Linked DNA regions of Homo sapiens: all the other regions are linked to region 2. Evidence: fine-mapped expression QTL. A gene starts in region 2. Each other region holds a variant in brackets. All regions are shown on one strand. Distances are between the middles of the regions. Region 1 overlaps MAPK14 (mitogen-activated protein kinase 14). Region 2 holds the start of SLC26A8 (solute carrier family 26 member 8). Region 3 overlaps SRPK1 (SRSF protein kinase 1).

What was found.
Region 1: its variant is fine-mapped to the expression of SLC26A8 in whole blood (INTERVAL, PIP above 0.99).
Region 3: its variant is fine-mapped to the expression of SLC26A8 in whole blood (TOPMed, PIP 0.97).

The regions. Positions count from the first base shown.
Region 1 is chr6:36,050,110-36,061,236 of GRCh38, forward strand. MAPK14 (mitogen-activated protein kinase 14) reads left to right here. Exons shown (of 12, transcript NM_139012.3): 2 at 2,590-2,719; 3 at 9,180-9,238. Among named protein-coding and RNA genes, the nearest start is that of MAPK14, 28 kb to the left of the region's middle. The variant C/T (reference allele first, on the strand shown) is at 6,521.
Region 2 is chr6:36,018,168-36,029,091 of GRCh38, forward strand. SLC26A8 (solute carrier family 26 member 8) reads right to left here and starts at 6,474. Exons shown (of 20, transcript NM_052961.4): 1 at 6,337-6,474; 2 at 1,353-1,542. The coding sequence starts at 1,540. MAPK14 (mitogen-activated protein kinase 14) reads left to right here and starts at 9,641. Exons shown (of 12, transcript NM_139012.3): 1 at 9,641-10,106. The coding sequence starts at 9,991. RefSeq lists enhancers at 5,919-6,420, 6,421-6,920, 9,252-9,691 and a silencer at 9,882-9,981.
Region 3 is chr6:35,868,624-35,879,253 of GRCh38, forward strand. SRPK1 (SRSF protein kinase 1) reads right to left here. Exons shown (of 16, transcript NM_003137.5): 7 at 5,610-5,716; 8 at 3,940-4,105; 9 at 2,311-2,336; 10 at 1,658-1,871; 11 at 859-1,278; 12 at 387-487. Among named protein-coding and RNA genes, the nearest start is that of SRPK1, 47 kb to the right of the region's middle. The variant G/T (reference allele first, on the strand shown) is at 6,785.

The DNA of each region.
Region 1 (11,127 bases), 32 kb after region 2:
TCTGATTCTACAGTCTTTCTTGTTCAACCTCAGTTCCTTGGATTCAGTCATGGAGAATTAAGTGGTTGAGATTACCCAAGGTTAGACTTTATCCAGGTGAGTACATCAGAGAGACAGACAGACAGAGAGAGAGAAGTGCAAGGGAGTGATTATAATCATGGAACAGGAAGGGAGATGAAGACAGAAGAGGGCTGAAGGATAGAAACAAGCAATGACAATGAGGTTAACAAATTGTTGTAGTCAGGGTACAAGTAAACTAGAGGTAACTAGGTTTTTGATGAAAAGCAAATGCTGCTGGCATTCAAAATTTTGTAGGTGGGGCAGTTTTTGGTAGGAATAAAGGTCTAGAATGTGACCATGAAGATGGCTGGGTGTGGTGGAGTTTCCTAGAGAGGTCAGGAAACAGGATGTTGGGTGTGCCGTTCACCTGGATGTTGAAGTTGCCAAGAATGATGACAGAAGTTGAGAGTGTAGAGAGATCTTCTGGATAGAAACTAACTTTTCAATGAATGATGGAAAATTTCAGGTCAGTGGATACCTGCAGCAGAGAGGGATAGTTTATCAGGGTTGTGAGCAGGAGGTATTTTATAGAACAAACGGAAAGTAATGGTCCTGAAGTGGTAACGGCTGCCAAGGAAGACTCCTACGCACCTGCTAGCCAGGAGGTATCTGGGCTATTAGAGAATGCTTTCTAATGGCAGGGCTATAAGAGAAGCAGTGTCTTCTAGAAATGGCCTAGTTTCAGAGATGGAGGGGAGGTTCAGAAAAGAGGTTGAAGATTTATAGGAGTTTATCACAAATTGGGATTTGAAGATTGAGGGTATGCCATAAAAGTTTGGGAGTGAAAGGAAGGGCACTGGAGTAGGTACAGAGTTGTAAAAGCAAGTTTGGCAGGCAGAGAGTTTGGTGATAACAGATGACCAGAAAGTCTTGGATACATGTTAGAGACTGAGACAAACTGGAGGATGAGGCATAATGGAACTGGCCCAGACAATTTCTGTTATTACTATTTTTTTTTTTTTTTGAGACCGAGTTTCACTCTTATTGCCAGGCTGGAGTGCGATGGTGCAATCTCAGCTCACTGCAACCTCCGCCTCCTGGGATCAAGTGATTCTCCTGCCTCAGCCTCCTGAGTAGCTGGGATTACAGGCACCTGCCACTGCGCCTAATTTTGTATTTTTAGTAGAGATGGGGTTTCACCATCTTGGTCAGACTGGTCTCGAGCTCCTGACCTCGTGATCCTCCCGCCTCGGCCTCCCAAGGTGCTGGATTACAGGCATGAGCCACTGTGCCTGGCGACGATTTCTAAAAATAATTAAAATACACATCGCATTTTTGCTATAGATGTCCTCCATGATCTAGCTGCTGCCTGCATCTCTTACGTCATCCCTTCCCACTCTCCCCTTGCTCCCTGTGCTCTACCCACACAGCCTTTCTGTCTTTCTGTCACTCACTCCAGCATGCCATACGTTTCCTACCTCTGTTTCTTTTTTCGTTTGTTTGCACTTGCTCTTCTGAGAGATAGCAGAGTCAAGTGGTCAGTAGCATAAGCTCTGGATCCAGACTCCCTGCTCTGCCGCTTTTAAGCTTTGTGACCGTGGTCAAGTTACCTAACTTCTCTCTGCTTCAGTTTCTTACTTGTAAGTGGGAGAATGATAATAGTACTTATTTCATAGGGGATTCGGGGAAATACAAAAGCTGAATTGAGACAAATAAATGTAAAGGGCTTAGAACAATTTCTTGTATGTGTGGGTAAAGACTCTATAAACATTAATATTATTATTATTTCTTCTGCTTGAAGCTCTTTTTCTTATATATTTATATAGGGAATTTAATCATTATATTGTTTCCTTCTCAGCTCAGATGTCATTCCTCAGCCATCCTAGCTAAAGTGGTATAACTCCACTGGCTTTCTGTCACTCTTTATCCCATTACCCTTTTATTTAGTCATAGTATTTTCATCACTACTTGAAATTATTTTATTATTCTGTTCTGCTCTTCCCCCATTCCCTGAAGGTGCCAAGTACTTTGTAGGTGCTCAAGAAATATTTGTGGCAATTTATTGTCCTGAAAACATGGTTTCCTGGGCCTCGACTCTGAGCAGGCAGCAGATGTGGCAAGGTGACGACAGTGAGGCCTAGGCAGGGAAGACAGAATTCAACTCTGTTTATTAATCTGTTGGCTCATCTAGATCAGGCAGCTGCCAGTTTTTGTAAATTTTATTAGAACACAGCCACACCCATTTTAAAACTTATTTTCTGGCTGCTTTCCTCATACAACCACAGAGTTGAGTAGTTGTGACAGAGGTCTTACTTACAAAGTTGAAAATATTACTATCTGGCCCTTCATTGAAAAAAATTTGCTGACTTCTGATTTAGATACATAGAAAAGACAAGGAGAAAACACCAAAAATAATAACAGAAGCTTTATTTGGATAATGGGATAATAGGTCATTTTGCTTTTTATCTTTATGCTTTTTTTTGGTATTTTGTTATAGACCCTTTAATTTGGAAATAGCCTTATAAATACCCCAAAATAATATTTAGAACAGCTTTTTAATGGTGGGTTTTTTCCCTTTTTTCTCCTTAGTGCTGCTTTTGACACAAAAACGGGGTTACGTGTGGCAGTGAAGAAGCTCTCCAGACCATTTCAGTCCATCATTCATGCGAAAAGAACCTACAGAGAACTGCGGTTACTTAAACATATGAAACATGAAAATGTAAGTTATTCATTCAAGGAAGAATACATTTTGATCTTGAATAGACTGGGGAAAAATGTTTTAATTACTGCAGATGGAAATACGCTGGAGTGCATCAAACGTTGGTCCCTGCTCCTTGTCCTGGGGTGTTAGTGGCCACTTGGTTATGTCAGGTCAAAGACTTGGAATGAAAGTGATGCATCTTCCTGGAGTTTTAGTTTTACTCAAAGATTTTTAGAGGAGAAAGAACTCTTTAAAATTTTAAAATTAAAGGATATGTTATGAAATACAACACAAAATTCACAATAATTTTTAAGAGAAAATATTAAAAAGAAGTTATGTATTCTTTGCCTGGTTTTCCTAAGGCTATATTATGAGAATATGGGAGTCTGTGGCTATTAAAAGACAAAATAGCCACAGACTCCCATATTCTCATAATATAGCCTTAATATTTTTAAGTGGAAAAATCTGAGAAAGAGTGCCTTAGGCTCACTGAAAGTCCTATCAGAGATGGCTATTATTTTATATATTTGTTAATAATTTTTCTTTTTTTCCAGATTCACGTATTTTAATAAATATGTCAGAGGCATTGTTTAAGTTAAATATAACTTTTTCTTTTTTACCAATTTGTTGATTCAGTTGCCATTCTGCAAAGATGCTTACAAATTCTAATACGATAAATAAGTGGATATAATTGGAATACTAACTGAAAGTAAAAAGACAGTTGACTGAAGACACTTATTTTACTGAATTTCAAAATCAAGTTATGAATTTCTGTGACTGCTATATGAAGGGTACTGTGAAGTTTGTAGCATTGTGGAAACAATGGCCATAGAGATTTCAAAGTCCTCTGGCTGTACTGCTTGTTACCTTGTGGAAGAAAATTCAAAATCTGTGAATTTATTATTTGACTATTTAGACTGTTTTAGTAATTTAACTTCTTCATAGCGAGAAAAAAGTCACAGATAAGTGACTCTTCATTAGCGTACATTTGTTTCATTAGTGCAAATTTCTTCTAAATTGAGAACATTAAGACTTAAATTTGTAATTGGATTATGGATGCCATTATAATCACAGCTGCTGCTTTTTATTTTCACATTTTATTTTGATTGTATGCTATTGAGGAAATCCTATTTCTACAGACAACTTCTATTCCTGAGTATAATTTTACTTAAGTAGCTATGTGCAAACCAGAGTTTTAAGAATGTTCAGTGTGAAGCTGCAGCCTTCCTAATCAGTGACATGTTTACAAGAAGTTGAGATATGCGGAAAAAGCTGGCAGCAGAAACTTTATTCCTAGGTCTGCATAAAATCAAAGTGGCCTGGCAGCTTTAAGGGATGTGTTTGCGTTTGATTTTTAACACATTTAAGTGTGTATGCTGTTTTTCATTACACATTATTATATGTGACAGAGACAGTGTCACAGCTTTGCAAGTATAAAGGATATTTTGAAAGTGAAATGCAAGCCAAACATTTATGGAACCCCAGAGCACCTTTGGGAGCCACTAGGATCCTATTGATGTGGCTATGCTAATTTAAGAACATCTGGTTTAGGAGATTATCAGTGCTACACTGATTGTTTTGCTTTTCTTCATAAATATGTTAAGCCAATGTTTAGGGATCATGGTATTAGAAAAATAGGATTTTAATTTCTATACATTGTTTTATAAGTGGCTTGCTTACTAGCAGTCTTTTTTTTATATAAAGATGTTTAAGTTCTAACAGTTGGTGGTCACCTAGATATCAGTGATTTGTTATTTAAACAAAATAAGGCACATGGCTGAATGTCTCATAGTTCTCTATTCCATTGGCAAATGTTTGAAGCCAAAAGACTTGACTCAATGTAGAAAAATTCCTGCATTTTAGCCTATTTTGAAAACATTTGTTAGGTGCTTATAATGTCAAAGTAGTTTTACCCAATAAAGAACCAAAACTTCCGGTAAGTTTAATTGAGGGTTTTCAGAGAAATTCATCTCGTTTACCCTCCTCTTCTTTTTTAAAAAATTACTGTTTTGGGTCACCATCCAATTTTTATAGCGGCCAAACCTCCCACAGGCAGCAGCAACAGGCGCTTAAAACTTGTGAACATTTTAGGTGTTGGTAACAAATACAATTTTCAGGTGCCAGAGGGCACATGTGATCTTTTACACAAAAATGCCTCTGACCCACAATCGGTAGTTCATCTTGAATTGTCTCTTCTGTTAGTGATCATGAATAATAGATAAACATTTATTAGGTGAGTGACTGAAGCTAGGGGATGTCCTCTGTGACTGTGAGAGTTTCTCTCTGAACAAAGTTAGTTGGACCATTCCTGATTGAACTTCTGACCTTGATCTCGTTAACACCTGCTCTAAGGAAAGATTAAAGGGAGGCAGCCTGCCAGCTGCATCCTTTGCTGTCTGGGCAGACACTACAGAGATGGCCCATATATGGGCCTAGAGATCTGTACATTTTAGAATTTAAAAATGATCAAGGAAATTGTTTTGTAAATTTTATTTGGGAGCCTTAGATTTAACCTTACCATTGTAGACCAAGAGATTGTTTTGGTGTGCTTTTGTTAAATATGCTAAATATTGTCTCTGGATACTGAGTTAAAGTATTTTTTTTTGGATGTGTGCTAATTTAATAAAAATACGACTTAATATTTGCCAGGCTTTGGACCATGATGGGATAATCATTAGAGATATTTGCTGCTTATTTGTATTATGAATGTCTTTTCTAAAAATTTGATTCCTGGGTTACTTTGAGGTGACTGAAGTCATGTAACAGCAGAAGGAGTTAAGGAAATAGACTAAAATATGACTTGATTTAGAAGGGAATTTCCATTTAAGAAATGAGAAATGGCTGGGCGCAGTGGCTCATGCCTGTAATCCTAGCACTTTGGGAGGCCAAGGTGGGTGGATTGCTTGAACCCAGAAGTTTGAGACCAGCCTGGGCAACATGGCAAAAACCAGTCTCTATTATTATATTAAAAAAAAAAAAAAGAAATGAGAAATGAATAGATTCCTAAAATATTTTCCAGATCTATTTTAATGCTGATAAGCTTTTGTTTTACAGTATTTTCCTTATGATTAATATTCATAAGTATGATTAATGGAGTGAGGGATATTTTGTAAAAACCCATCAAAAATTTAAGTACTTTGATTTAGCATGGGTAGTTTTAATCTCAAAATTGTTATTTTCGGTGTGCTTATGTTAAACACATTAAATATTGTAAATATTGCCCTTTTTAGGAAATTAAAATTTGGTAGGGTATTTACTAGTTGGCTTTTCTCTATTTTTTTTCAGGTTACTTTATTTTTCTTCTTGCAGTCATGGTTTTTAATCATTTGAATAGTTGAGCTTTATGTCTCATATTCTGTTAATGGAAGTAGCTGCTTCAGATAGTTTGCTTAGGTATATTGTATTTTGTAATTGTCTATTCAACTGTGTGGGCTGTGGTCACCACTTATTTTGATGATCCACAGTGGGTCAGCCTTTTGTACTAGGCACCTTCAGATACATTGTCTGCTCAGTCTTGCTGTCAGTACTGTGAAAATAAGCAATGATGTCCTCATGTTTTTCATATGAGGAAAATGGGACTCAGAGAAGATACCAAATGTATTTGCCAATTATTATTTACATAACAGCCATTCATTGAACTCCTGCTGAATGCCAGGCTCCATTCCAAGTGCCAGCGTTATTGGAATGAAGAAATTATAAGCTCTTGGACCCAAGAAATCACAAACTGATACTGGGGTTCAAACTTACAGCTGCTTGGTTCCAAAATGTCTGTTGTGTTTTCAGTTTGAAATTGGAGTTTTTATTTGAAAATAGTTTTGA[C/T]TTTTGTCTTTTGAGGTAACTCTTGCATGTGTAAATCAGATCTCTAATGATTTAGTTTTATTTCCATAGGAGGATTTTCACAATCACAATGGAAACACTGTAAAACAATGTAAATAGTTTTAAACTTTTCTATTGTTTTGAGGAGATGGGCATCTCAGATAACAAGAATCATTGATTAGAAAATATTGGAACGGTGAATAAAGTTAGCTTCTAGACCTCAGTTACCTTAAGTAGAAGTGGGTATAAGGGAGAGTGATTAAAAGACCAGAGGTCTTAAGCCAGGAGTATACCAAACTCAAGGGAAACGATTATGGTTTAGATGGAGAAGGTAAAAGGAAATGGATTTGACTTAAATTTAAAGCACTATTGTGAATGAGGTCACAGGTACTCTATTGGGAGGCATGTAAGTTGGCCTTACCTCTATGGAGGACCATTTGACAATATTAAGATCCTTAAATATATTGGTGTCCTTTGATTCTGTAATTCTGTTTCTTGAAATTTATTTCCTGGAAGAAAATATGAGATGTGCAAAATACATATATTTTTCTTGCAGTATTCCTTAAATGTCTAGAGATAGGAAATTGGTTAAGTTATGGTATACACAAATGATAGATATGCTGTATACAAATATTTAAATATTAAGTAAAAAGGCAGGATATAAAACTATGCATGGTGTAACCCCAATTTAATTTATGTACATCAGAAAATCAAAGGAAATATATCTCAAAATGTTAATGATAGTTATAATGGGTGGTATAATTATGGGTAATTTTGGTTTTCTTATGTACTGTTGTCTGGGTAAGATCTGAAAGTGATTCTATTTCCTTTGGAACAATTTTCAAGGACTTGAAACCTATTCTTGAATTCCAAGTATGTGTCCCACCACCTCCTTTTCAGGTTCAGACTGTAAAATTAAAGTTGCTTTTAAAAAGTGACATTTGGAGTCGGGCGTGGTGGTGCATGCCTGTTATCCCAGCTACTCGGGAGGCTGAGGCAGGAGAATCACTTATACCCAGGAGGCAGAGGTTGCAGTGAGCTGAGATTGTGCCATGCACTCCAGCCTGGGCAACAGGAGCGAAACTCTGTCTCAAAGAAAAAAAAAAAAGTCTGATATTTGGATGAGTGGAGTAACATCCTAATTAGAAGATCTTTTTCATGATAATGTTTTGAGTGTTAACATATCTTACTTCTAGAGCTTTGTGTTTAAGTTGGCAGTTTAGAACAGTGTGCTAGTGAGGCCACAGTCTTGCTTCATAACCAGATACTCTCAAATATGGCTGGGCGTATTACAAATGAATTATATATTTCTTATTTGCCTTGTCAATGCCTAACTTTGTAGAAATGAATGGCCTGGGTTTTAAGGAAAATAGATGGGAGGTAGGGGTTGGAGGGTGCTGTATGTGGATAAATCAGTATAAATTCCTGATCAGAAAAACTGCTCAAAGACCATGGGTTATTGAGTATTAAGTAGCTCTTTGCTTTATCCCTGTGTAAAAATAGACTTTTTTTTTCATTTTTAAATTGTCTGATTTAAATACCCTATACATTAAGACTTTGTGAGAATAATACCAAGAATATACTGAGAATATTTTGAGACTTTAAAAATGTCAGTTTTGAAGCATATACAGTTAATATGGAAATTTTTCGTGGAATACATTTTTAAAAAACACAATATTACGGTAACAACCATGGATGTGTGACCTTTTTCACCTGTTGGATTAATTCATTAGACCATTAGTACATACGTAAGGCAAGGACCCTAAATCTTTTTGCCTTCTGATAAACTACTGACTACATATGAATAAATTCTAAAGAGATGAAGATTTTTAATGGTAAAGTGGGTTAATATGAGAATTGATGTTAACAAGTAGAAAACAAAAGCATAATTTGGGTAGAAAATTAGTTGGAGTTATTAAGTATATGATGTGATGTTATGGAACTGAGGTAGCTGGTTTTGAATTAGTTCCTATTAAAATGATTGAGACGTGGCTGGCCGTGGTGGCTCACTGCTGTAATGCCAGCACTTTGGGATGCTGAAGTGGGAGGATCGCTTGAGGCCAGAAGGTCAAGACCAGCCTGGGCAATCTAGTGAGACACATCTGTACAAAAAAAGAAAAATTAGCTAGGCATGGTGGTGGCACGTGCTTATAGTCCCAGCTACTTGGGAGGCTGAGACAGGATTGCTTGAGCTGCAGTGAACTGTGATGGTGTCACTGTACTCTAGCTTGTGTGTCAAGAGTGAGATCCTGACTCTTTTTTTTTTTTTTTTGAGACAGAGTCTCACTCTGCACCTGCACTCTCCCAGGCTGGAGTGCAGTGGCGCAATCTCGGGTCACTGCAACCTCCGCTTCCCAGGTTCAATCAGTTCTCCTGCCTCAGCCTCCCGAGTAGCTGGGATTACAGGCGCCCGCCACCACACCTGGCTAATGTTTGTATTTTTAGTAGAGACAGGGTTTTACCATGTTGGCCAGGCTGGTCTCGAACTCCTGACTTCAGGTGATCCGCCCGCCTCGGCCTCCCAAAGTGTTGGGATTACAGGCGTGAGCCACTGCTCCCGGCCTAGACCCTGACTCTTTAAAAAAAAAGAAGATTAAGACCTGATGGGTACTATACTGAGTTTAATATTTATTTACTTTTTAATTTTTATATTTTCTTACAGGTGATTGGTCTGTTGGACGTTTTTACACCTGCAAGGTCTCTGGAGGAATTCAATGATGTGTGAGTAAATTTTTTGCATTTGCCTTCCTGGTCTACAGAATGAAGACTAATAGCCCATTTCTATTCCTGAACCATTTAGCAACATATAGACTTCAAAAAATTCTTTATTCCTATCATGCACCTCTTTTTGGGTGTAGGGATGGATACCAGAAGATGTATGTTATGGGTGGTGCGTGTTAGTATTTACATCATTTCAGGCACATTGTACCCCATTGAAGAGTCAGTCTTGAATTCTTACAAAAGTTCCATGGAGAAAGGAGTGGAGAGAGTTTTGACTATGGATTTTCTTTTCAAAGTGTTTATCCCAGGTTTGGTTTTGTTGTTGTTGTTGTTGTTGTTGTTTTTGTTTTAAAAGACACGGGGTCTTGTGATATTGCCCAGGCTGGACTCAAGCTCCTGGGCTGTAGTGATCCTCCCACCTCAGCCTCCTGAGGAGCTGGAACTACAGGCACATGCTACCATGCCTGGCCGATCCCAACTTTTAAAGGTGCTCTTCAAGAAATGTAACGGATCCCCAGCCATATAGACTCCCTCCTCTTTTATCGCCCATGCATGTGGGAGATGATACTAGAACTACATGCTGATCCTTGAAGTATTAGATTTCTATACTGGGATAAGGGGCAGACTCTACCTGTTGAGAAAGGCTTCTTCTCTCAGCTTTGTAACCACCTCTGTTGTTTTAGCCTGGGATACCCCTAGAAAGCAGAGCCTGGGATTCTCAGGAACCAGTAGTGGGGGGCTAGGGAAAATGAAACAGGAAAGGAGAGAAAGCTTCTATGAGTATATGTTGAGTTGGTCACCACTATGGACAATTGGGCTGAAAACTGCCAAGATCTAAGAAGCTGTACGTAATGCACCTCAGATGGGGATCATTAATACACTGGCTCCTGACCCCATTGGCAAGGGTTGCCACGTATGTCATTAGTGCCTTCACATGCCCAGGTTGCACATTGGTGGGCCATAAGACAGATTCCAGCAAGTGTTCCCATGTATGTGTGAACTCTCTACTATAGTAGCTTTTCTAGTATCTGAGTTGACACAGCTCTCCCTGCCCCCAGTTCACATATACACTATACCATGAAAGAGAAAAAAACCTTAAACACAGTTATACTTTTGGTCACATTGAAATTTTGGCATTCCTAAATGGAGAGTGTTACTATTATGAAAGCCAAAACAGAACTGAAGATCGTGACTTCTCTTCCTTAACCTCCATTCCCCCATTGACCCCAGGGCTGAACCTAACCAGTTTCTCCTCACCCTTATCCTGGTTTCAGTTTCTCCCATTCTTATCCTGGGCTGATTGCAAACACCGTTTACTCCTTCCCCACAGAACACAAAGGGGATATGTTTGAACTTCTATGTTCTGTCTAAGGAAAGGGAGAAAGAAATAAAGAAGATGAAATGGAAAGGGAAGGAGGAAAGGTGGCAAAAACATTTCTCCACCATTTGAATTTAGTTGGAACAGTGTATGGCTGAGAGTAGAAGAGTAGAAGTTAAGAGAGGAGAATTTGGTCCACCTACAAGATCTCCTTGGCTACATTAACCTTGATCCTGCTAATGAAAGTTTAAGAAACAAAGGAAAAAAATAGCCAATAACTAAGAAAAATTGTTCTTCTCGCAGCCCTGCTTGATACAACAATATGGAGGCTTCCAGAGATTACTGGATGTTACTCAGGGGCATGTATATTACAGTTTGTTGAGCCCTACTGTATGCTATAGTTGGAAAAGGGAATGTTACAGAATGATGGTTTTTAAAAATAGTTTTCCTAAATGTAGAAGAAATGCTGAAGTAATGTGTTTGTGAATTACTTTGGAAAACATTTGAGTTAGATCTGAGCTGTATCCCAAAATTTTAGGTATACTAAGGATGGATTTATATAACAAAGGAA
Region 2 (10,924 bases):
TTCTAGTCCTAGTTATAGGACTTCAAACAGATCTCCTGTGCCAATGTTCATGGCAGCATTATTTACAGTAGCCTAATGGCGGTAGAAACAACTCAAATGTCTGTTAACGAATGGATAAACAAAAATGTGGTATATAAATACAATGGAATATTATTCAGCCATAAAATGAAATGAAGTTCTAATACATGCTACAATATGGATGAATCTTGAAAACATTATGCTAAGTGAAAGAAGTCAGACACAAAAAGACAAACATATTGTATGATTCTACTTAAGTGAAATAGCTAGAATAGGCAAATTCATAGAGACAGAAAGCAGAAGAGAGGTTACTTGGGCTGAGGGGTGGGGAAATAGGGAATTATTGCTTAACAGAATTTCTGTTTGAGGTGATGAAAAAGTTTTGGAAATAGCGGTGATGGTTTCACAACATTGCGAATGTCAATCATGCCACTGAATTGTATATTTAAAAATGGTCAAAATAGCCAATTTTATGTTATACATATTTCACCACAATAAAAAACATTTAAAAAATTATTCTGAAAGATGTTGATTAACTTTATCAGACTGCTAGAAGGTTCAAAGCACAAAAACAGGGTAAGAGCCCCTGAACTGTAGGACCTAGCTAGTCACAGCGGGTATCAGAGGTGGTGGTGGTAGATTCTACCTTAGTGACCATGAGTACCACCATGTGGGCACTGTTGGATATGAGACTAGAAGAATCTCATTCCCCTACCATTAATCAGTCCACCATGGCTATCTTATTTATTTATTTTTTTTGAGACAGAGACTTGCTCTGTTGCCCAGGCTAGAGTGTAGTGGCACAATCTCGACCCACTACAACCTCCGCCTCCCAGGTTCAAGCAATTCTCATGCCTCAGCCTCTTGAGCAGCTGGAATTACAGCACGTGCCACCACGCCCAGCTAATTTTTGTATTTTTAGTAGAGACGGGGTTTCACCATGTTGCCCAGGTTGGTCTCAAATTCCTGGACTCAAGTGATCTGCCTGCCTTGGCCTCCTGAAGTGCTGGGATTACGGGCGTGAGCCATTGCGTCTTGCTGGCTATCTTATTTTTGGTCGGGAGTCTGGTAGTCATGGTTGATTGAACAATGGAATTATGAAATATCCTCCTTAGGTACCATAGGGACATCCAAGATCTTTATGCCCAGGAAGTTTACAATCGAAAAGGTACTGCAAGACAAACCACAAAAATGACTGAAGAAAAATTGCACAATAAACTGCATGATTCTGATTACAGGAACTCAGACAAGAAAGAGAAACGGACCCCAAAGGAGTCAGGTTAGGTTTCAGTCCTGCCCGGCTCGGCAGCAGGTGAAAGATTGGACACACGCACCGGCACTGGACGTGGTGTCTGAAGGTGGTGATGTTGATGTTCATGTTCCCAGAAGAGGAGGCCTTCCTTTTGTGTTCCTGTTGAAAGGTCTCCTCATTGTATACTTCACGCTTAACATCATATGCGAATGAGTTTCGCCTGGACTTAGAGCTGAAGCCAGAGATGGCGCTCCTCTCTAGTTGTGCCATTCCTGGATGAGTGGAAAGAGAGCAAATAAAAGAGCATTTTCAGTAATCCAGATCCTCGGCATATTTTTAAGGAAATAAAATTCCTATATAATAATGTTTTACACTTGCATAGCATCTTTCAGTTGTAAAAAACTCTTTCTCAAAGTTGTATAATTTTATGTGTATTCTTTTCATTTTTCAAATGGAGACAACAAAACCCAGAAGTTTAAACAGTCTTTGCTGTTTGATACTTATTAGAGCCAGGACTAGAACCCAGGTGTCCTGCTGGGAGGCCTAGTTTTCTTTATATTCAGTTGTGTTATGTTGTAGGAAAATGATCAAGAGGTGGACAGTATTAATCAACAATTTTCACTGAAAATGCTCACTATCCAGCATATATGAAGAAGTCCAGATGAAGGGTTAAGTGCTCAATACAAGTCTTGTAACTCCTCTAAAATAGCAGACATCATTATCCCTTTACCTTTTACTTTTCTTCACGGCACTTGCCAGCACCTGATTCATTATTTGTCTGTTTGTCCATTGTCTGTTTCCCCCATAAAATGTAAGACCAGGAAGCAGGACTGTGACTATTCACAGTTGCAGCCCCAGGACCCAAAAGAATGGCTTTCACTTAGCAACTTAGCAGGCCCTTAACAAGTGTTTCTTGAATGACTGCCAAGTATACAGTTAGTGGCCTCATGGTGTAGCAGAAAAAGCTATAGAAGTTCAAGACTAGACTAGGCAACATGGTGAAACCCTGTCTCTACTAAAAATAGAAACAAAATTAGCTGGGCATGATGGCATGGCATGTAGTCCTAGCTGCTCAGGAGGCTGAGGTGGGAGGATCACCTGAGCCCAGCAGGTGGAGGTTGCAGTGAGCTGGGATCGCACCACTGTACTCCAGCCTGGGTGTCAGAGCGAGACCCTGTCTCTAAAAGAAAAAAAAATCTATATTATCCTGCTTTTTTAAAAGATTGAAAAGATAGAGTAAATGAGGATGGATAGGGATCCATCTCTGGGAGAAAGTATAACCAGTCTTAATAATCTATGTTTTTGAACAATAAAAAAAGCATAAACTCTAAAATTCTTCCACATAAATGTAAAAAAGCATATGTATAAACCACATACCTATAAAATATATTGGTAAACCCTCAAATTATATAGATTACACAATTATATAGATGATGGGTGATGCTGCAGATAAGTTTAATGTGTCAGCAACTTTGTTTTCCTTCAGAAGAATCATCATCATCATCATTGCCAACATTTATTGGGCATTTATCCTATGCCATGCATTGCACTAGATTTCTTCACGAGTTATGTCATTAAATTTCCACAACAATACCAGTACTACTATTTCTTTCATTTTACAGGTGTAAAACCAAGATTTTAGAAAATGTAAGTAATTGGGCCATAATTATATATTGTATTTTTACCCTCAAAGCATTGGGTAGAAGTAATATGCTGTATAACAACCATGAACTAAAGATCACAAATTCTCTAAACCAGTGAGGTGACTGGGGAATACAGAAGAGGATGGGAGAGGTATTTTACAATATATTACTTAAGATAATTAGTGCCTCATGTCTCTTACAAAAAGAAAAAAAGGTAGAACTGTATATTGAAATGTAAGGAATCCCCCCCCACCTTTCTTTCCCCACCCATAGGAATACAGACCCAATCTTCCTTACTTTCCCCGTATAATTGTCCAATGTACTTCCATGAGTAGTCTCTTTGTTCCCAGCAACCTAAACAAGCCTAATTAGTCTGCTAATGACAAAACTGATATCCTGGGTCACATCGAGAGTCTAGAACCCAGCATTTTGTTCTGAAAGTGACATTAAAGGAGGATTGGTGTAAAATAGGCAAAATATGACCGTCAAGGAGTGGTGGGAACAGTGGGGCTGGCAAAGGCAGCAGAAGCTGCTTAGCTCTAGCCATTTTTGCCATCGGTCAATGTGGGGCCCGGAATGGCTTAGATCTGATCTTTTCCAGGAGAAGCCATAATGCCAGATTTTTATGTGGAATCTTCTGGCTTTTAAATGTTGTCAATTACTTTACATATGTTTACGTATACATATAAATATATATGTATATTATTTTATTTTATTTTTTGATATAGAGTCTCGCTCTGTCGCCCAGGCTGGAGTGCAGTGGCGTGATCTCAGCTCACAGGGTTTCACGGTGTTAGCCAGGATGGTCTTGATCTCCTGACCTCGTGATCTGCCTCCCTCGGCCTCCCAAAGTGCTGGGATTACACGCGTGAGCCACCGCGCCCGGCCTATTTTTTATTTTTTTGGAGATGGAGTACAGCTCTGTCACCCAGGCTGGAGTTCAGTGGCGCGATCTTAGCTCACTGCAACCTCCACCTCCCAGGTTCAAGCGATTCTCCTGCCTTGCCTCCTGAGTAGCTGGGATTACAGGCATGTGCCACCACATCTGGCTAATTTTTGTATTTTTGGTGGAGACAGGGTTTCGCCATGTTGGCCAGGCTGGTCTTGAATTCCCTACCTCAGGTGATCCTCCCGCCTCGGCCTCCCAAATTGCTGGGATTACAGGCGTGAGCCACTGCGCCTGGCCTATTTAAAGTCTTTCAGCAGAAGTAGTAATACGCACAGAGATGCATTTTGGGAAGATGAAATGTGCCAGTGTTATGTTCTAGAGCTGAGTTGTCCAGTATGGTAGCCACTGGCTACATGTGGCTATTTAAACTTAAAATAAAAAATTCAGATCCTCAATTATACTAGCTAGATTTCAAGTGCTCAACAGCCACATATGGCTAGTGGTTACCTTACTGGACAGTGCAGATATGCAGATATAAAAAATTTCCATCATCACAAAAAGTTGTTGGACAGTGGAGATAGGAGAGACTGAGGCAAAACAGCCAATTGGAGACCATTAATATTAGTCTAGGAGATGTTATCAAGTCATAAACTCCTACGACCACAGTGAGGATGGCTAGGAGGAGCAGGTGGAAAGTTGTCTTTAAGGAACTCCATCAAATGTCTGGCTAACAGCAGCAAGGGTAAACGCATGGTTTCCTTATTATTTTTTTTAAGTAATTTTCTTTGGAATTTCTCCAGCTCCATTATGTCTTTCTTGATTTCATAGAAATCCTAGTGGCTCATTTTCATGTACTAGCAGGACACTTCCCAAGAAGATGCAATGACCAGAAACTCCTACTGTTGAGTAGGCCCCACTTAGCAAGACCTACTGAATCAGAAACTCTGGGGGCCATCAGTCTGTTTTAAGAAGCTGTCCAGACTGCTGGGCCCCCAGAGATTCTGATTCAGTAGGTCTTGCTAGGTAGAAAAAAAGCAAAGAAGCTGTCCAGGTGATTCTGATAAAAATTAAAGTATGACTACCACTATAAATATAGTGGATTATCTTTCATGAGCCTTTCAGTGCTAAATTTGGGGGCCCTGTTAAAATACAAGCACTTTTGGCCTAGCTCTTTCACCCTCCATAGTACCCTTATCCATCCATCCATCCATCCATCCATCCATCCATCCATCCATCCATTTATCTAATTATTTACATTATCTGTGTTCAGAGTGCTTTAAAAGTAAAGAATAGGCCAGACATGGCTCAGTGGCTCATGCCTGTAATCCCAGCACTTTGGAAGGCCAAGGCGGTTGGATCAGCTGAGGTCAGGAGTTCAAGACCAGCCTGGCCAACATGGTGAAACCCCGTCTCTAATAAAAATACAAAAATTAGCCGAGCATGATGGCGTGCCTGTAGTCCTGGCTACTCAGGAGGGTGAGGCAGGAGAATCGCTTGAACCTAGGAGGCAGAGGTTGCAGTGAACCGAGATCAAACCACTGCATTCCAGCCTGGGCGACAGAGCAAGACTCTGTCTCAAAAAAAAAAAAAAAAAAAAAAGTCAAGAATAAAAAGTTTAAATACAATCCAATTTTTTAGCTATTGACCCAAATAATATGAAATCTTGAAAGCTAGTTTAGTTGCAGGAATATCTTCCCCCTGATATTGTTAACTTTCTTATGTTTTCTATAATCACGGAAAGGCAAAATTTACTTCCGAATTTTCAAAATAAGCATTTGTAATTCCATCAGAAACAACCCTACACCTGTTACTACCTAGGTTTTTATGGAGAATGTATTGGGAATACAGAAAAGGTATAAGCAAAGAGCCTGGCCTTTAGATCCTTTAGTCACTCTGGCTAGTGGCTAGGGATGACTAGTAAGATGACAGTCCTTAAGCGGATGACCATTGGACACATAAACATAGGACAACCACCTTCCATGCAATGTGGATAGAGTAACATGGTGTGTTGGAGAGATGCTCATTATTGGGGTGGGGGTGCTGGAGAAGGCTTCACGGGGCCCCTGACACATCAACGGCATTTGACATGAAAAGAAAGGGGCAAGGAGGTGGGGGTGGGGATTCAGTCACAGGGAACAAAATTAACAAAAGCAGTGGGGTCTGAAAGGAAGAGGAACGGCCGGGCAGTCAGGCCTCAGGAGGAAATGGATGGGGTAGGCGGTGGGGTGCAGGTAGCACGTCAGTTCTGGGGCTTTTGACAATATAGACAGGAGAATTTGAAAGGATGCAGCTTGCAAAACGCACACACTGTTGTCTCTTGTCATTGCCATCCACACGGCCTTTGAAAGTAGAGACAATACCTCAGAGATAAGCTCCCAGGGACGACCATCATTCATTCATTCCACAGATACTGACTGAGTGCCCACGGCGTGCCTGGCTCTGCGGCATACCTGGGTACCTGCCGGTGACGGACGCAGCCCCCGCCCTGGGACCTGCAGCCCCCGGCGCCCAGGCGTCTCCCAGCAGCGGCTCACCTGGCTCCTTGGCGGGGGCGGGAGTGCGGGCGCTGGGATCCCACACGGCTCTCGCCTGGCTGGCGGCGCTGCGGACGCGGATACCGGCGGCGGTTCCCGAGCCGTTGTGGCCTAGCCCGCGGGCGTTCCGGGCGGGCTGAGGAGATGAGAGTGGGGGAGGGGACGAGGAAGAGGAGCATGAGCAGCTGGGCTAGGGAGCCAGGAAAGTGGTACCTGGGTCGCCCTCCTCATACCTGAGTCGTGGGATCCCCTTGGTATTTGGTAAACCTGTATACCAAGGCTCCTTCTCTCTCCGAGGTTTTGCTATTCTTGATCGAGGGCCTATTTGGTGCCAGGCCTCGTGTCCTGAACATACAGCAGTGCACATGTGTCACATGTGTACTGCACAGACGGTAATTCACTAACGTCTCCGGAAGACTTAAGCCTTCCTCAGGTCAGAAGAGGTAAAAAGAAATGGAGGCTAGGAGGGTCACCCAGGTCTCCAACCATAGGCTGTCTGCCCCACAAACCCGGCTCTCCCCACTGAATGACACCCTCCTGCCCAGATCTGCTCTGGATGCAGACATGCCATCTGCACTCACTCCCTTTACCCTCCTCCCACCCTATCCCTGTCCCTAGCACTGTCTCTCACTCCACCTTGTATTCCTGCTTGGCCCAGTTACAGTTTTACACTTGTTTGTTTGATGACTGTGTTAATGTCTACCTTATAATGCACTTTATGTATTCCTTTTTGTAAATCATCTTACCCCTATGAGGGCAAGGACTTTTATCCCTTTCATTAACTGTTTTATTATCAGTGCCTACAGCAGTGTGGTGGACATAGGAAGTATTCAATTAATTTTTGTTGAATGATTGCCCTCCCATTGATTGTAAGCTCCACACCGGCAGCAACTGTAGTTTTTAATCACTTTTAAACTGCAAGTGTTTGACACCTAGTAGGCATTTAATACACATTGGTTGAATGAGTGTATGAATATACTGCTTACTTTATCTTTACCCTTTCATTCACCCTCACCTCATCATCCCAATTTGTAGGATAAAAATGTGCATTTCTGAGGATTCCTACTTCCAAGCTTCCTCCTCACCCTTTGTAACCATTCCCTCATTCCCTTGATCCCCCCAACCCCATCCCTCATGTCTTCACAATCATGTTTTTGCTCTTACTTCCCCTTCACCCTCCATTACTTCTTAGAAAGCTTCCTATCCTCCCTAGTTTGGAACATTCTCAAGCAACATGTTTTTGTAGATAAGAGAATTCCAGCCTAAGCTACATTGGATCCAAAACAGCTTTCCATGAATCACCCATGACTATCTGTTTTTTGGTTTTATATTGCTTTCCTTGAAGAGGACTGAGGATACTGTACCACTTGAAATCATGGTCACTGTTCATAATTTTTTCAACAAATATTTATGACACATGTTTTATGTTCTAGACATTGTGCTAGATGTTGGGACAAGATATGCAAAGTCTGAGCCCTCCAAGGTGTGTATGACACAAAATAGAATAATCACGGGAAATGTTGAGAAATGTCCTGGCTTGGATCTAGTTATTTCTAATACAAGAAACTAAGAGAATGAGACAGGATCTGATTCTTCTGCTCATTGTAACAAGCTTTAGCATAGGCATAGGTTGATAATGGATGTAGGCATGGGGTTAGAATGCCTTGCCCATTCACATTTATCTTGTTTGGTTTTTACAAATGACTCTGTTAGTCGGGAATGCAGGGCAGGAATTCTCTCGTAGAAGCTGGAACTGAGGTTCAGGAAAGGTCAGTTGACTTGCCTAAATTCGATGAGACTCCTGCCCTATTCTCCTTACTCGAAGAGGCCTGAGTTAAATGCTTAAAATCCTCTTCACTGATGGCTCTTCAGGATAGGAGTCAGTTTCAAATCTTCAGTGTAACGGTTTTTTAAATGCTTCTCAAAGGGAGATATCAGAGACTTTCCTGAATCAGAATCACCTAAGATGTATTATAAAAATGCATGCTCTTGATCAAGACCTCCTCTGACCTACCCAATTAGACTCCCTGTGAGTTCTGGGAACTTGCATCTTAAACTCCCAGGGTGATTTTTCTGCATGTAAGTTTAACTGGGAGAGTTTTAATGTAAAGCTTCGGTTTGTTTTTGTTTTTGTTTTTGTTTTTGAGACGGAGTCTCCCTCTGACGCCAGGCTGGAGTGCAGTGGCGCGATTTTAGCTCACTGCAACCTCCGCCTCCTGGATTCATGCAATTCTCCTGCCTCAGCCTCCCGAGAAGCTGGGACTACAGGGTCGTGCCACCACGCCCAGCTAATTTTTGTATTTTTTTTAGTAGAGACGAGGTTTCACCATGTTGGCCAGGATGGTCTCTATCGCTTGACCTCGTGATCCACCCGCCTCGGCCTCCCAAAGTGCTGGGATAACAGGTGTGAGCCACTGAGCCCAGCCCCTGGAAAGCCTCAGCTTTGATGCAGGGTTAACATTTGCCTTTGGGACATATTTCGTCAGCATCTCAAAGAGTAACCCATATGTCCTTGAGCAGATGGGAATGCAACAGCCTTCTGGCCGGAACCTGTCTCTTTCTTTCTTTCTTTCTTTTGAGACGGAGTTTCGCTCTTGTTGCCCAGGCTGGAGTGTAATGGCACGATCTCGGCTCACCGCAACTCCGCCTCCCGGGTTCAAGCGATTCTCCTGCCTCAGCCTCCCGAATAGCTAAGACTCCAGGTGCGCGCCACTACGCCCGGTTAATTTTGCATTTTTAGTAGAGACGGGGTTTCTCCATGTTGGTCAGGCTGGTCTCGAACTCCCGACCTCAGGTGATCCGCCCGCCTCGGCCTCCCAAAGTGCTGGGATTACAGGCGTGAGCCACCACGCCCGGCCACTTGTCTCTTTTTTATGCAAGTGTTTTTTGGAATTTGGGGGTTCAGGTGAGCAGGTGCTCTGCTGCTGGTAACTACTCGCAGTTAAAGATCTTTTGACTCTTTCCCCGACACGCTATTTGTCAGTGTCGTTTTCCACCACAGAGCCAGGTATTTGCCCCGCCGGCCACGGTGAGGCGCGCGAGGCGTGTGCTGCCAGCTTCTCTCTTCCTTCCCCGGTCCGCCTTCGCGCCCTTAAGGAGACAGTCCCTGGGAGTTTCTGCCTTTGGTCTCCAGTTATTGTTCTCTTCTCGCGAGAACTGCTCCTCCCATCCTCTTCTCTCACGAAGCCCCGCCCGCGGAGAGGTTCCATATTGGGTAAAATCTCGGCTCTCGGAGAGTCCCGGGAGCTGTTCTCGCGAGAGTACTGCGGGAGGCTCCCGTTTGCTGGCTCTTGGAACCGCGACCACTGGAGCCTTAGCGGGCGCAGCAGCTGGAACGGGAGTACTGCGACGCAGCCCGGAGTCGGCCTTGTAGGGGCGAAGGTGCAGGGAGATCGCGGCGGGCGCAGTCTTGAGCGCCGGAGCGCGTCCCTGCCCTTAGCGGGGCTTGCCCCAGTCGCAGGGGCACATCCAGCCGCTGCGGCTGACAGCAGCCGCGCGCGCGGGAGTCTGCGGGGTCGCGGCAGCCGCACCTGCGCGGGCGACCAGCGCAAGGTCCCCGCCCGGCTGGGCGGGCAGCAAGGGCCGGGGAGAGGGTGCGGGTGCAGGCGGGGGCCCCACAGGGCCACCTTCTTGCCCGGCGGCTGCCGCTGGAAAATGTCTCAGGAGAGGCCCACGTTCTACCGGCAGGAGCTGAACAAGACAATCTGGGAGGTGCCCGAGCGTTACCAGAACCTGTCTCCAGTGGGCTCTGGCGCCTATGGCTCTGTGTGGTGAGTGTCGCTGGGCCTGGGGCCGCTGTGGGCAGGGTGGCCCCTCGCGCCCGAGGGCCAGGCCTGCTCCACTGCTCAGCGTTGCGTCAAGTGGCAGGAATTTTCCTCGGGGGAGGGCATTGCTGCCCCTTCGAGCTCTGCCCGTTCTGCACCTCCAGCACCCCTCGCCCTGCACTCACGCAGGTATGCGGTCCACCGTGTGCAGCACTCAGGTCCGCTGCGAGAGGTAGGTGGTGGTGCTGGAGCTCGGTTCTGGCTAGCACCCTGCGCCTTCCCCTCTCGGAGGGTTGCTGCTCGGCAACAGGCACCGGGGGAAGGGCCGCTTCCTTGGGGGTCTCCCTGCCTACCTGGAGCAGAAGGACCCTCTCCCGTGATGCGCCCACGCTGGGGCTCCGGACCCTGGGTCCTCTGAGCAGACAAGCTCGGGGAACTGCCGGGAGAAGCAGAAGGGCACAGCCCAACCCGAAGACTGCGGTCATCTGAACAAAACTGACCAGGAAGGGAGCTCTCTCCGGGCCTTTTTTTTTTTTTTTTTTTTTCAAAACTCTGTCGAAATCCCATCTTGAAAAGCGTTCTTTTTGAATTCGCACTTGAATTAACAGCGATCCATAGAGCTTAAAATACCGACTTTATCTCGGTGAGCACTGTGCCAGCTTGAGTGGTGTGTTTCCGATTCGGTTGAAAGCGTATTTCCTTTCCGTGGAGGGGCGGCGGTGGTAGTGCCTGCAAGAACACTGCAGCTTGAGAAACTGGCAGGCTCACTGATTAGTCACATACCACTGCTCATTTAAGTATTGTTCGACAAAACAATTTTCTCA
Region 3 (10,630 bases), 150 kb before region 2:
GGAGGTTACAATTTATAAGTTAGTCATCAATTTTGAAAATGGGAGTAGGGGAGTATGAACATAGGCACTGAGTGTCTGAAAGTTAATAATGATATATATATTAAAAACAAGATTGGCCAGGAGTTGACATTACTGAATCTGGGTGATGGGTATCTGGAGTGGGGTGGGGTAACAGAAGGACTTTTCATGATCACGATTACCATTCTACTTTCGTAAGTATATTTAAACTTTTCCATAGTAAAAGGTTTTTTTAAATGTAAAAAAATATTCACTGAAGTGTTGTATCAATCTGGGTACAGAATTATGGATGTTTTGCATAACTAAGTCCAAATTCTCATTCATCCTCCCAGTCACTTCAAAACACCATTAAGGCAAGTTTAACTTACCACCCAACAAGCATTTCCAAGGTCAGCAATCTTCACCTTGAGCTTTTCTGCATTTTTTGGCTCAAGGGGATTAACAAGAAAATTTCCAGCCGTGGATTTTCCTACAGACAACAGGCATCATCAATAAGACTGTTCAATGAACAGAGAAATACTCAATGAGTAATAAAGCTCTCCAAGGTAAGAGTAATACAGTCAGCAATACCCAAGTGACAACTTACATTTTCTGAGACAAAAAGAGCACAGCAACGCCTTGAGTTTCCAGAATTAAAAACCTCTGCCCTCACAGCAACAAATGAAGTGCTGTGTACTCAGTACATGATGGATAAAGTTAGCTACAGATTACAATTTAAACGTAACTTAGACACACCTGTTGTAAAGCTATAGTTACAAAAACAATCATACTTTTAGTCTAGAAATCTGTGAATGTGTTGTGCAGGGAAGGAGTGTTGAGGAAGTATAGCTGCATAGGTACCTTTGTTGTCCAGTGGTCCGTTATGTTCTTGCTCTTGTTCATCTTCACAGGGTATCTCTGCCCGAATGCTTTCTTGAAGTTGGCTAATGTGTTGTTCACTGAATGACTGACCTACAGTTGAGGAAGACTGGCACACCATGGTGTCTGACACCTCAGATGTTATAGGTGTACAAGAGTCTGTTTCTTGAGATGTGCTGCTGTCTCCATTTTGGGAGCTTAGGAAACTAGATTCCTGATTCAAATTTTGGACATCACAGTCATTAGCATTATGTAGATCCTCTTTATGTCTCAATGTTTCATTATTACTGTTCTGAGTATAATTAATGACTTCAATCACTCCATTGCAATTAATTTCTGCTGCACCACCCTCTGTATCACGTTCCATAAGCGTTTGATCCTGGCCAATGGTACTTGACTCTTCTAAGGAACAAACGAACAAAAAAAGATATATGCATATGTGTGTGAGTGAAAGAACAGAAACATTTCTCACAAGATTAAAACATTTTCTAGAACTTATACTGAGTGACATAAAAACATGACTAAACATCTAAAACCTATTTCCGGAAGGGCCAAGATCTTACTTTTACCCAATTGTTAAATGAAATCTATGTTCCATTTCCTGAGAAAAGTTACAAATTACATTTAAATATTACCTGCCTAACATTTATGACAAGATCCATATTCTTATAAAGATACCCCCAGAGATGTGTTGTATGTATGAAACCACTGTATTATATAGCAATGATAAATTAACGTTAAAGTGTGTTGTACAGTAATTTTCGTGATGTTCTATTTATACCAAGTTTTTCTTGGGTCATTTTATTAGGTGGGTTCTCTTTCAAGGGTCTTTCAACAGGACTCTCTGATTCTTCTTGCTTGTTTGGTCTTTTTTGCCCAGGGCCCGACTCTTTCTCCATTTCCTCAATTTCCTGCATTCGCTTCTCTAGTAATTCTGCCTGGCGCTTCTGCTTCTTCTTCAATTTCTTCTTCTTATTCTTTGACATTTTGTCAGCCTGGGCGGAGATTACAAACAGATAAAGCCTTCAGGTGGCTAATTAATTACCCCCAGTTGGAGATAGTTGTTAACTTTAATTACTTCCTAATTAAATTTCACAAATCTTTCCCTAACATAGCACTTAAGTCTTTCATTAAATTAAAAGATGCGGGATACTCTTATAAACCCAAATAAAAACAGAATAAATAACAAAGTGTGGTCTTCTGAGCAGTCCGTGGGGTTGGTTTACATTCAGACAAACTCGAATTTTTTAGAGGCCTCACCAGTACAAATGTGATGAAGGTGCATGGGAATTTACTGGAGAAAATTATAGAAGCGCAGGAATTTTTTTTCCTTTTGGTTCTCAAACTTGAAACAAACTGTTACCATCCACAACAGAAGAACCCATGCCCATAGTCCATAGATCAAAATTAAATATAAAAACACCTTATACTTACTGGTTTAGGCTGGGGAGCAGTACTGACTGAAAAGAAAAGAAAACCAAGTAAGAATTCTGGCATTCATCAGGCAATATAAACTAAGGCTCAGATAAAACACTCTACCAGAATGAAAAGTCTTTCTTATGTAGTCTACATTGCAGAGAAAACTATTGTTTTTAAATGACTTAAGTAGAAGCTATATTATTACCATTTTTAAAGAAAATAATGAATAGAAATTGCCAAACTTAAAAAAAAGGGATAAATAAAATTCTTCCTCCCCAGGTAAACTAAAGTTGCTAAAAATCACCTATTTTCCATTCCCATGCACTGCTTAAAATAGAATGGGACAAGCAACAACCTCTTCACCTCAAATGCTACCCAGAATCTGTCAGTTTTAAAAGGGGAGTCTAGGTGACATCAAGAGCTATAGTAATTTGCTCTACAGCATGTCATGGATAACAGTGTAGCTTAGCTGGAAGGTAGGATCTTCAGTCTTCCTCTTTTTAAAATATTAGTATAATAACTGTGGTTAACAAAAAACACATAATAAAAATTTATACTCTAGATAAGTGTACATTCAGTGGTTTTAACACTATTCACACTGTTGTATAACAGGATCTGTAGAATGTTTTCATCTTGTAAAACAGAAACTACATCCATTTAACAACCAACTCCCCATTTCCCCCTTCTTTAGTCTTCCTTTTTAAAGAAGTGTATAACTAATAACTCAACTTGAGGATCAAGCAAGTTCCTAAAAAATGACACACTACTAAAACTAAAATCTGTATCTCAAAAGAAAAAAAATCATAAAGCAGCCTTTATTTATTTATTTAATTTTATGTCTTAGACAGGGTCTCACTTTGTTGCCTATGCTCGAGTGCAGTGGTACTATCACAACTCGTGGCAGCCTTGACTTCCTAGGCTCAAGCAATCATCCTGCCCCAGCCTCCTGAGTAAATGGACTACAGGCACGCATCACTATGCCTGGCTAATTTTTTTAATTTTTGTAGAGACAGGGTCTTACTGTGTTGCCTAGGCTGGTCTCAAACTTCTGGGCCCAAATCATCCACCCACCTCAACCTCCCAAAGTGTTGCGTTACAGGCATGAGCCACTGTGCCTGGTCCCGCAATTTATTTGGTATATAATATTGTGTGGCACACTACTAACTGCTTTACCATTTAATCCCAATAATTCGCAGTTGAGGGAAAATAAAGTAAAATAACTCAGCTAAGGTTTCTCAGTCTAGGATGAAGCCCAAATTCAAACCAAGTCTGTCTACTCCAGTGTTTAAACCTAAACTATTAATAGCAATGTTATCTTGTCCCTCTACAGACTACCAGTCCTATAAATGAGCATGTGTGATCACAGTTAGAGGTAAACACTTCAAAAATCATCAACTCATAAGAAAAAATATTTTTAAACAATACACACCAGCTTTTATAACATACAACACAAAGACACAATATCTAGTTTTCTCCTTCCCCTATGGAAGTAACAGTGAGAATGTCTCTTGGAAGCTGATAATGTTTCTTAAATATGTTATTGTTGAAATGGATTGAGTGGTGTTTAATTCCCTGGTAACAGAATAAAAATAGAAATTTCTTTTTAACTTCTAATGATAGCGAAGTCCCTAAAAGAAAATACACCTGCAGATCCGGAAGGCGGAGGAGCTCCAGATCGCTGCCATTCTGTTGCTTCTGCAGCCAGCCTCCGAATGTACTGCTCATTCACTGACAATAAGATGTTCTCTGGTTTAATGTCAGTGTGGATGATACGGCACTTGGTATGTAAATAATCAAGACCCTGTAACACCTGAATGGAAATAGAGTGGCAGACTTGCAAACACAAAATACAGGCTTTCTGGAGAAGTAAGAGATTATAACATGACATTAAAAAAAAAAAAAAGATATGATAGCGTTTTCTATAGAGAATAAAAGCACCTTTTAAAAAAGCACAAATAAACTTTCTCAGAAAGATTAAACTATGAAAAAGGCAAGAAATTATTTACAATAAAAAATTCTTCAATGTTTTACAAAGCTGATTCTATTTGGAGATATTCTTCAACTATGTACAATGCAAAGACTGAGAATAAACTTCAACACACACACACCCTCTAAGTGTTGTAATGTAGGTGCTGACAGACATTTAGATATCTTTAATTCAAATTTCCTCACTGAGGAAGAATTGAGGTCTCTTGCTGCCCAGTTTGGAGCTCTTTCCAGGACATATAATCCAAACAAATTTTTGCACCTTGAAGTATTAATATTTTCCTGATGGTAAAATCTATACTGTATATTGAAGGCTCTTTAGAAAATTAGAAAATGCCTATGAATCATGCTGTATAAAGAGATGGCAATAATCTGACATAGCAATTATCTATTCATGTAAAATTACTATTTGCAACCAGAACTTCTGGATAAGGGCTCCAATGTTCCCAAGTCAGGAACCTCAGCTTCCCTTTCTAATTATTATAGGAGGCAAACCTGGGGGAAAATGGTTATGCTAAAACATTTAAAAAGAGAATAAGCACAATAAATTCTAAAGGTTGAATGAAATATTTAATTTTAGCAATTAACTTTTTTTTTTTTTTTGAGATGGAGTCTTGCTCTGTCGCCCAGGCTGGAGCGCGGTGGCGCGATCTCAGCTCACTGCAACCTCCGCCTCCCGGGTTCAAGCGATTCTCCTGCCTCAGCCTGCCGAGTAGCTGGGATTATAGGCGCTTACCACCACACCCGGCTAATTTTTGTATTTTTAGTAGAGACGGGGTTTCGCACTGTTGGCCAGGCTGGTCTCGAGCTCCTGACCTCAGGTGATCTGCCCGCCTCGGCCTCCCAAAGTGCTGGGATTACAGGCGTGAGCCACCGCGCCCAGCCAATAACTTACTTTTTAAAACAAAGAATTTTAAAACAAAAATTCTTTTTTTTTTTTGAGACGGAGTCTCGCTCTGTCGCCCAGGCTGGAGTGCAGTGGTGTGATCTCGGCTCACCGCAAGCTCCGCCTCCTGGGTTCACGCCATTCTCCTGCCTCAGCCTCCCGAGTAGCTTGGGACTACAGGTGCCTGCCAAGACACCCGGCTAACTTTTTGTATTTTGAGTAGAGAGGAGGTTTCACCATGTTAGCCAGGATGGTCTTGATCTCCTGACCTCGTGATCTGCCCGCCTCGGCCTCCCAAAGTGCTGGGATTACAGGAATGAGCCACCACACCCGGCCTTAAAACAAAAATTCTATTGGAAAAAATAAAGTCCTGACACTTCAAGAATATTAAAAAATCACTACATAGTCAAGACTAAGATACTTGCTGATTCAAGATACATACTTGCTGAATAATTTTTTTGACACAAGGCAGTGGAAGCCCCTGATAATTGGATTTGATGATCCACTTGAGCAGATGATGCCCCAAAACTTCAAATACCATGCAGATATCTAGGAATTCATTAAGGAGGGAAAAAACGGCACAAAAGAAGAACACGGCAAGACAAGCTGTGAATTCCACCCTATTAAATGTTATGTATTATTTTCTTTCAGTATAAAAAGTTACAGAGCTTGAATGAATAAATATGTAGCTGTTAATATTCTAAAATTTCAAAGTCTAATGCTATAGTCAATGAAAGCATTCATGAAACATTAAATTGTGGGCGGCTGGCTTCATCAATATTATTATGTACATTAAAATACTCAATGGTAAAAGAAAAAGTGAAACCTACATATGCAAATAGTGAAAGAAAGCAGTAGGCTCAAGCCTCAAGCTGTTGATTAGCTTCAGGTAAATTAGTTTCTTCCCTAATATCAAAATTGGTGTCCAGGGTAAAAATTCCCACTCTCACAGCTTCAAAGCAAGGAAAAACAAATTATTCCTTAACTATAGAAGAGATGAATGTACAAGAAAGACTTAAACCTCAAAAACGTAAATGCCAACATTTTTTTTTAAATAGGAAACTTGCTTAATGCTCTGTATTTTACAAAACTAATCTTGATTCCAGTGCCACCATGTGTTGTCCTTATGTATGAACAACCTGATGACACCACACAGCAGGAATACTCTGAGTCTAAAATTGTGCAGGGCACTACAGAGATTTTAGTAGTATCTTGATGTCTTCCACCCCCACTGGCTTCTACATGCAAGTTAAGACATACATATATAGTAATGGTCTAGTGCTCAGACTTTAACATTCTCCATTAAAGGAAAGCCTGAGCTCCTTGGAAAAATGGCCAAATCCAAGGTAGGAAAAATAACAGGGTAAACTTGGAACACCTTGCTGTTCTAACAAATAAAAGAACCTGTCAGGAAGAAACAGGAACCATCTTGAAAAGGATGTCACCAGCCAACATGGAGACTTCTTTTTTTTTTTTTTTTTTGAGACAGAGTCTTGGCTCTGTTGCCCAGGCTGGAGTGCAGTGGCACTATCTCAGCTCACTGCAACCTCTGCCTCTCGGCACTACAGGTGTGTACCACCACGCTGGGCTAATTTTTGTATTTTTAGTACAGATGGG[G/T]TTTCACCATATTGGCCAGGCTGGTCTTGAACTCCTGACCTCATAATCTACCTGCCTTGGCCTCCCAAAGTGCTGGGATTACAAGCGTGAGCCACTGCGCCCGGCCAGACCACTATAAAGGATAAAATTATGAGTTAATATATGAATTAAAAACAGAACAAGTCCACACTGATCTGAAAGTAAGTGTGGAGGCAGGAGGAAGAGAAACATCTTCTTTAGAGAAGAAAGCCAAATAATAAATACATAAGGGATTACAGAAATAGAAAATCACCATTTTTACAATCACTATAGTATACTATTACTGATTCAGGTAAGAATCAGTGAATACTAAAACAACTATGTGAAAGACTGTCGGGAAAAAGGATTGTCACAGTGTCAAAATATCATTCCACAGATTGCTTATTAATTACAAAAAGAACAAAGTACCTTTACAACTGGGAAATCTGGAAGGCACTGCCTTAACCAAGTGATCAAACTTACTACCACCAATGATAAGCACAAATTCACACCATGTGCCTTCTAATGCAATATACTAATATGCATTCGAATGCATATTCTAATGCAATAATCCATGTACTATGCTTGACAAACACGGTTAACCTGAATTTAATCATGAGGAAACAATCAAACAAATCCAAACTAAGGTGGCATAAAACAACTAGCCTGGATTCTTAAATTAAAAAAAAAAAAAAAAAAAAAAGGCAATGTCATAAATGTTCCAAACTACGTAAGATTAAAAGCACATGACAACCACAAACACAGATCAAAATTACAGTAAGATAGCATCTCAAACTAATAAATGACTAAAATAAAAAAACTAAACATCACCAAATGTAGGTGAGGTTGTGGAACAATTAGAACTCTTGTATTATGCTAGTAGAAGTCTAAAATGGTACAAGCACTTTGGAAAACTGCTTGGCAAATTCTTAAATATAAAACCTATGACAGGTCGGGCATGGTGGCTCATGCCTGTAATCCTAGCACTTTGGGAGGCCGAGACAGATAGATCCCTTGAGCCCAGGAGTTCAAGAAGACCAGCCTGGGCAACAAGGTGAAACCCTGTCTCTACAAGAAAAATCCAAAAATTAGCCAAGTGTGGTGGCGTGTGCCTGTAGTCCCAGCTACTTAGGAGGCTGAGGTGAGAGGATCACCTGAGCCCAGGAGGTCAAGGCTGCAGTGAGCAGAGATCATGCCACGGCACTCCAGCCTGAGTGACACAGTGACACCCCGTCACAAAAACAACAAACAAAAAACCCCAGCACCTATCAAGTTTTCTGCTTTAGCCAAGATGGAGTAACAGGCACTGGACTTATCTTATTGAAAAAACAATACTCAAACAGACCAAATACAAAAACAACAGAAGACTCTGGACATCAGACAACAAGTACAGTGATCCCTGAAAAAAGGAAACAAGAGCTGAACCCTGGGATTGCCCCATCTTATTGCCTTGAGGCTTTCCAGGTAGACTCCACAAGTTGAATCAATGGGAGCTGAGAGTCTGGAGAGACCAAGGCAGCTATAATTCACTGAAAAAGGTACCAGAGAGAGGGGAGAGCTGCAGAAAGAGAGAAATTTGGAGATTTGCAGAGGGGGCCCGCCCCTTCAAGGATTCAGCAAAGCACATGTGTGTGAGGAAACTAGCAGAGGCAGAGAAGAAAAAACATCTTAAAGGATTATAGAGAACAATGCCCAGCATTCGCATAGGGCTTGGAACAGTGCCTGTTCCCAGCAAAGAGACTAGAAAAATTTAGTCACAGGGTATTGGGTAGGATATATTTGGGAAGGTCTTGCCTCAGTAGAGGGAATGATTAGATCTGGACTGAGCAATGCTTTGGATCCATCTAACAAATCATAAAAGTAAAATCTAAAAGGATAAAACACTTTCCAAGTAACATCACACCATCCCAGAACAAGGCTCAAGAAGATTTATAGAAATACAAAACATCCAGCAGCCAACAAGGTAAAACTTACAATGTGATTACCAGGTAGTAAAACATATCCAAAATTAAAATAATCGATCATGTGAAACTGACTTAGAACCATCACAGATGTTAGAATTAGACAAGGACAATAAATGGTTATTATAGTTGTATTCCATATGTTCAAAAAATTAAGTAGAGACATGAAAAGTATTTTTTAGAAGACTGAAAATGGGCCGGGTGCAGTGGCTCATGGCTGTAATCCCAGCACTTTGGGAGGCCGAGGTGGGCGGATCACGAGGTCAGGAGTTTGAGACCAGCCTGACCAATATGGTGAAACTCCATCTCTACTAAAAATACAAAAAAACTAGCCAGGCATGGTGGCGCGTGCCTGTAGTCCCAGCTACTTAGGAGGCTAAGGCAGGAGAATCACTTGAACCCAGGAGGCGGAGGTTGCAGTGAGCAACCACTGCACCACTGCACTCCACTGCACTCCTGCACCACTGACTCCGTCTCAAAAAAAAAAAAAAGACTTGAAAATGAACTTCCAGAGACAAAAAGTGCAATGTGAGAGATCAAAACACACTGGATGGAACAAATGGCAGATTAGATTTTGTAGAATAAAAAGATTAGTGAATTTGATGGCACAGCAACAGAATTAGTCCAAAATAAAACAATTTGGAAAAATAATCCAAACAAACAAATCCACACATCCACAAAAGCAAGCTTTGGGGGCAACTCAAATAGTGACCTCCAAAAAGGGAAGACAGGAAGGAGGTGAAAGTATGTGCTTTTTGCAATGAATCAACAAATCATAAAGGTAAAGATTCACCCAGTAGCAAAGCATACCCCTAAGTGCTTAGATTCTGGATGTCATTTCCCACTGAATGGAATTAGGGCTTCTTAGAGAAAAACTGATTCTAGATTTAAGACAGGAAATTCACAAGGTGAGCCTGCAATATCTTGATGCCAGGTAATAAACTGCCAAAATGTCATACAGATCCTGACTCAAGTAAGAATCGTAAACTAGAGAAGAGTCTGAGAAGATGGTGGAGTAAGAAGCCACCAGAAATCTGTTTCCCCACCTAGACAACCAATGCATTGGCAGAATCTGTCTAATGTGATTCTTAAGAAACTCTGGAGTCTACTGAGGGCTCACAACTTCCCGAAGAAGAGGCTTGGATAATAATTATTGTAAATGTTGGTCAATTTCAGCTCTTAGCACAGTGGCAACCACCTATCCCCTAATCCTATAGCAAGCAGCCCTGCACACAGTTTGTTGGAGCCATGGTGGGCAAAAAGGATCCTGCCCCAAGTATCAGAGTCGGGTGGCCATTTTTGTAACCCCCCTCCATTGTTTTAAGCCCCTCTTCTGGCTCAAGTGATCTTGCAAAGATTTAAAGGGCCAGTGCCCTATTTCCTCTCCTTCAATTTCTTTCTTTTTCCCCTTTGGGAGCCAGACATTAAGACTAGGACATTTACGGCCAGGCACAGTAGCTCACACCTGTAATCCCAGCACTTTGGGAGGCCAAAGTGGGCAGATCACTTGAGGCCAGGAGTTCGAGACCAGCCTGGCAAACATGGTGAAACGCTGTCTCTATTAAAATTACGAAAATTAGCCAGGTGTGGTGGCATGCACCTGTAATCCCAGCTACATGGGAGGCTGAGGCAGGAGAATCACTTAAACCCAGGAGGCGGAGGTTGCACTGAGCTGAGACTGTGCCACTGCACTCTAGCCTGTGTGACAGAGACTCTTGTCTCTAAATAAATAAATAGACTAGGACATTCAAAAGCAACTGCATATAGAGGGAAAATCAGAAAGTGACTGCGCATGCCCAGGAAAAGATGCAGACTGAGCAAAGACCTTTCGTTTACATCTCAGGCTGATCCTTGGAAGAGAAAGACTACATAAGAAAAACAAATACAA